2 separate regions of the Homo sapiens genome follow, and region 1 is linked to region 2. The links come from fine-mapping of genetic effects on gene expression. A gene starts in region 2. The other region holds a variant in brackets. All regions are shown on one strand. Distances are between the middles of the regions.

Region 1 (2,901 bases), 32 kb after region 2:
TAAAAAAGTGAGGAAGGATGTATAGTCACCCAGCAGCACAGTCCCTGGGCTCTGTCTTTGACAATGATAAACATCGGGAAGGCAACAGGCCCCAGTCCTTTGGAAACAGGGCTCAGGAGCAGGACACCAGGGTTGGAGGCTGGCTGTGGAATTCGTTAGCCCATGAGAACCTCTGGGTGCCTCCTCTCCTCTAACCTAACCCTAACCCTAATGTCATCCGCATCACATAGGTTGCTAGGAAAATTTGACATGTGTGAAGTGTTTACAGTGGTGTCTGTCACTCAGTAAATCCCCAATTGAGTGGAAATGACACTTTGCTTTCTCTGGTCCCCCCTACCTCTCCCCACAGCCCCTCAACTAGGAGAGGATGACAAGGGGAAATCACCCACCAGCTCTGAAACAGGCCCCAGGAAGGGGTCTCTGACGCACAGCCAGTAATCCCACAAAGGGAAGCCTGGAGAGCCTCTGTCATGCCCTAGTCAGCCCATTCCTCACTCCCAGAAGGGAGAGAGGAGAGCTCGTTTCCCCTGGGAACCAGGGTCCCAACTCCAGGGCCTGGCCTTGTCCATCTGGGGCTAACACTGACTCCATCCTCCACTGTCATCCAGACCTGGCCTCCCATCAGTTTCTGACTCCTCCCACCATGATTTTCCCAGGTTCCATGAGCGAGAGCCGTCACCCTCCACATCAGAGAGATAAGCCTGTCACTGGACAGTCACACCTAGGGACTCGTGTGGTGGGGCCTCCTACATAAGTGGTCACTTATAGGACTTGGGGGAACTGTGACACCTGTCCAGGAGAAGTTTAAATGAAGCAGCATGAGAGCTTGAAAGAAGAGCGGCAGGTCTCCACCACGACGTGGCCCCAGGATACATGTGAAGGTGGAGGTGGGTGGCTGTCACGTCCAGAAACCTCTGCTCCCCAGTGGGGCACTGGGGTTGGAAGTTGAGGCTGCATCTCTTGTCAGGGTCATGGGGCCACCATGCAAGGACAGGGTTTGCTAGGATTTCAAACAGCAGAGCTCCTGATAGTCGTGACTGCGTGGCCCTGGGTTCCTCAGTCAGAAAGCATGCACTGCTTCCGGTCACCTTTGTGTGGCTTCCCCTGGGTCTGCCACTCCAGACTTGGCTTTCTTACCGCACTTTTCATGTTCTCAAAAGCAGTCTCTCACACCAGCGTCTTCCCGTGCCAACGAGGAGAGAGCTCTGCACTGCACCCCCTGGATGAGGAGGCGTGCTCAGGAGCCCCCTTCTACCAGCCCTGCTGGGTGGCTCCCACCCCTGCCTCTGCGTCCTGCAGGGCTGGGCCTTGCCTCCTCAGTGATCCTATCGCCTGCATTCCAGTCGTGCTGCTAATTCCCTCCACCAGGGTGGTTTGCGCACAGGCCCCTCCCTAGGTCCACCTGTGCAGACTCAGCGCTGCCTCTGGGCTGGCCATACCACCTGGGGCTGCTGGTACAGGACAGCTTCCCCAAAGCACTGGGGCTTGCCAGGCCTTCTGTGACCCACCCAAGATTCCCTGATAGTGGCTGGACTCAGCCAGGTATCTTTAGTCCCACTCAGCCCCACCTTGGAACCTTGCTCTCAGTCCCTAC[G/A]TGTCCTGTTTCAAAGGCCCTGGAAGACATGTGGACCTCATTTTTACACCTCTGGGGCCCTGCACAAGTCTCTGACCCCACCCACAAGGCAGGTGACCCTAAGTCTAGGATACATCATACTTCTCAAGGATGTGGCCCACCCTGAGACATGGAGGAAGGGTGCATCATTGGAGACAGCTGCCCAGCCCAAGCCCTGGCCTCAGATTGGGAGCTGCCACCTGGCGGGGACTCCATTGTTCTCTGGCCTTTGCTGGAGGCAGAGGCTAGAAGTGGTCTCAGTTCCTTCTCCTGGGCTGTCAAGGGGCAGGACTGCAGGATGGGCACCAGGCAGAAGTGGCACTTCACACCCCTGCCTGGGGTGCCACAGGGACATTGCCAGGGAAGTCTTCCTGGAGGGGAGTTCAGGCATGCCAAAGAACTTGGATTTGCACACATGGTGTTTGTCTCCCACATGCACTATGCAGGGCTTCTCGAGACATACTTCTTCATGGAATTTCACAGGATATTTCCTGGGAGGAGGGGGGCCCATGGGGTGAGCTGAGGATTTTACTGGGATGGGTCAAAGGAATTGCTACATTTTCTACCATAGAGAGCATTCACTGGGTGAGGTCTCAATGGGGGGTCTCAATTGAGGTCTCAATGGGGGGGTGAGCCCTGGGGGTCGCTCTAGATTAAAGGAAGTCATGGGTACCTGAGGCATCAGGACTTCTAGGGCCCCCGTGCAAGTGGTGGAAATGGAAAGGTCTTCTGTTATAACACTGTGGTATCTCACAGTGCATGGGTCTCTCTGTGGGGCTTGCTGGAGTGGGAGCCATAGGAGACAGTTGGGCGGCAGGGACTCAGGGACTGGGAAGCTTGCTGGGAGTGGGCATCCAGGGAAAGTCAGCAATCCAAGGGATTACCCACCCCCAGACCCAAAGACGATGGATCACAAGACTACCGAGGAGGGGGTGGTGGGGCGAGTTTAATTCATAAAGAAGCCTCCTGATCAGAAAGGGGCCTAACAGCCTGCCCTTGGAGAGAAGTCCTTCCTTGAGGATAAGGCCTCCCAGGGGAGGAGGTGCTGGGGGCCAGTGTTAGGCTTCAGGCCATCCCTGGAGGCCAGTCCTGTGCTCAGCAAGTAGTGGCAGAGCCTGCGGAGAGTGGCGGGCAGGCCATCAGACACAGTCCTTACACAGACACCCCCTCAGCCCACAGAAGCCCGTCTCACCTGGAGTGATGAGTGGGATGGCCTTCTCAGGTACAGGACTAGAGAAAGGACCACATCAGAGTAGTATCAGGTTAGCCTGGAGGACCTTCTCCCCTAT
Region 2 (2,901 bases):
CGGCCTCCCAAAGTCTTGGGATTACAGGCGCGAGCCACCGCGCCCGGCCGGCCACAACTTCTTAAGAATACCTACCTATCTGATTTTCGCCCCTTTCCTATGATGCTGAATACCTATCTGATTTTTGCAGGAACTATTTTCTGTAATTTTGCCTCAAATTATGCAGTTTTCTCTTTGGACATTTTTACCTATTCTGACAGCTCCTGCTTTACTCTTTCCATTCTCTTTCTTGGAACTAGCTTTTTCTTTTAACAAACTCCTTCCTTCATCACAATCATCCCACTCATCATCTGACACTATTTTGAGCACTCCTTTACTTTCTCTGGTGATTTAAAAAATAACGTTCAGCCAGATGCGTGGCTCAATCCAGTAATCCCAACACTCTGGGAGGCGTAGGTGGGCGGATGGCTTGAGTCCAGGAGTTCCCGACCAGCCCGGGCAACACAGCGAAACCTCGCCTCTACAAAAAATACAAAATTTAGCCGAGAGTGGTGGTGCTACTCAGGAGGTTGAGGCAGGAGGATCGCTTGAGCCCAGGAGGTCGAGGCTGCAGTGAGCCGTGATTGTACCACTGCACTCCCGCCTGAATGACAGGGCGATACTCAGTCTGGAAATAATAACAATAGTAACAATGTTCAGCTTAACCTGTGATGAGTGCCTTGACATCATCTCTTCATGAAGAAGATCCACCAAAATAAAATGGTTACAATTATTAGCCCTACAATACATCAAAAAAAAAAAGAAAAGAAAGAAAATCTGTCCCTGGCTTAGCCATTAGCCACCAAATCTGTGTGTTCAGGTGCTCTGTGACTGAAAATCTTGCCCTCGACCTGGGTCTGAGTTACATTCTGAGGTTTGGGGGCTTCTCACACCACGGAATTTATCACCTGAGCAACTTCAACCTGACAAATCCCTCCTAACGCCCTGCTCTGAGACCCCTTTAGGCGGTCTCCGGAGTACTCAGTGTACCTTTTTTTTTTTTTTTTCTTTGAGACGTAGTCTCGCTCTGTCGCTAGGCTGGAGTGCAGTGGCGCGATCTCGGCTCACGCAAGCTCCGCCTCCCGGGTTCAAGCGATTCCCCTGCCTCAGCCACCCGAGTGGCTGGGACTACAAGCGCGCGCCACCACGCCTGGCTAATTTTTTTGTATTTTAGTAGGGGTTTCACTATGTTGGCCAGGATGGTCTCGATTTCCCGACCGCCTGATCCGTCCGCCTCGGCCTCCCAAAGTGGTGGGATTACAGGCGTGAGCCACCGCGCCCGGCCTTCAGTGTACTACTTTCCTTATTTTATTTTTTGAGACAGCGCCTCGCTCTGTCGCCCAGGCTGGACGCAATGGAGCAGTCACGGATCACTGCAGCCTCGACCTCCCGGGCTCAAGCGATTCTCCCGCCTTAGCCTCCCAAATTACTGGGACCACAGGCTTGCGCCACCACGCCCTGCCATCGGCTCTCATTTCCTTTTCCCATCCTAGTCTTCCATCAGGCGTCCTTTCGGCGCACATTTCAGTGTCCTGCGGGGCTCACCAGTGTCCTTCCTCCAGGGCCTCAGGGGCAGTCAGAGGGATCTTTCCCGCCGCTCCACTCCCTCCTCCTCCTCCCCCTCCCCCTATCCCCTCCCCTCCCCTCCCTTCTCCTCTCCAGAAACGTCCTCGCTTGTCCGCCTCCACCGCCTCCCCCGCCAGCCGTGTCGGCTCTGCTCCGCGCCCAGCCGGCCAACCGGCGGCTCAGCTCTGGCGCGTCACAATGCGCCGTCGCGGCCCCGCCCCCGGACGCCGGACGCAGAAACTCCGCCCTGCCGCGGTCCTTGCGTCCTTCCGGCTCCGTCGTGGAAGCAGGACTGCGCCGCGTCTTCCTCAAGGTGGGGTTCGGGGGGCCACCGAATCGCTGTCACGCCGGCAGGTAGCAGGGGGTGGGGACGCGGGCTCCTTGGGCTTCTGTTTCCTGGTGTCCAGGGCAAAGGGCTGAGCCGGGCAGTAGGGCCTAGTCGGGGCCTGGCTCGCCGGGAGCAGGAGGGCTTCCGGCAAAGCCGCGTGCGCTCGACGGGCAGGCGCTGAGGATTGGGGCCGGCAGCGCGCCTGACCCCGCCCCTCGTAGGCTCCGCCCCGTGCTCGCAGGCGGGGGTTTCCATGGTGATGGTCAACAAGCCTCAACTGCCTCTGCTACAACTGCCAAGTTCCCCGCGTCCCACCCTCCTCTAGGTGCTCCAAGGGACCACCGGGGTGCCTGATATGAGAGCGGGAGTGTAGAGACTCGGAGGCCGAGGTGAGGGGCGGCCGAAGTCTCCGAGGTCGAAGGCCGCACACCCGGGACCTAGCGGGGACCGGGTCCCCCTGGGGGTGGGGACGGGGGGTGGGATTTGAGATTAGGGAGACTATCCGAAGTCCAGGGCCCCGTACCCGGACTACCTGGGGACTGGGCCTATTGGGGTGGGGATCGTTGGGCTGGGGCTGGGATTTGGGATCAGGGAAGAGCGATCTGAGTTTAAGCGCCGCAAACCTGGGACCGAGCGAGGACTGCACATAATGAGGGGCCGTGGCGCTGAGATTTGGGTGACGGGATTCGAGGTCGAGGGGCCCGTACGTGGGACCGGCAAGAACTGGACCCACTGGGATCGGGAGACGCAGCGTCGGAGGTCGAGAGCCGCACGCCCAGACAGTGGTCCCACGCGGTGAGCACCGCGGGCTGAGATTTTGGAGTCAGGAAAGCGCGGGGAAGGCACGGACGGCCGGGTGCGTTAGTCCGGCCCCCTGGCGGGGAGCTGGCGACTGCCGGAGGGCTCTGAAAGTGAGAACAGGCCTGGCGCAGTGGGAGGCCCAGCCGGGAGGATCTCTTGAGCCCAGGAGTTCCCGACAAGCCTGGGCAACATAGACTGTCTCTACTGAAAAGTAAAGAAAAAAAAAT

The links. PIP is the estimated chance that this variant, and not a neighbour inherited with it, causes the effect.
Region 1: its variant is the best candidate, but not a certain one, in a credible set for the expression of HNRNPF in whole blood (TOPMed, PIP 0.85).

What each region holds. Positions count from the first base shown.
Region 1 is chr10:43,375,973-43,378,873 of GRCh38, reverse strand. FXYD4 (FXYD domain containing ion transport regulator 4) reads right to left here. Exons shown (of 9, transcript NM_173160.3): 8 at 2,805-2,842; 9 at 2,539-2,727. The coding sequence ends at 2,708. Among named protein-coding and RNA genes, the nearest start is that of FXYD4, 5.8 kb to the right of the region's middle. The variant G/A (reference allele first, on the strand shown) is at 1,595.
Region 2 is chr10:43,408,088-43,410,988 of GRCh38, reverse strand. It overlaps HNRNPF (heterogeneous nuclear ribonucleoprotein F), which reads left to right and starts at 1,803. Exons shown (of 4, transcript NM_001098204.2): 1 at 1,803-1,858. RefSeq lists silencers at 1,384-1,613, 2,064-2,183 and enhancers at 1,904-1,963, 2,694-2,901, 2,473-2,901.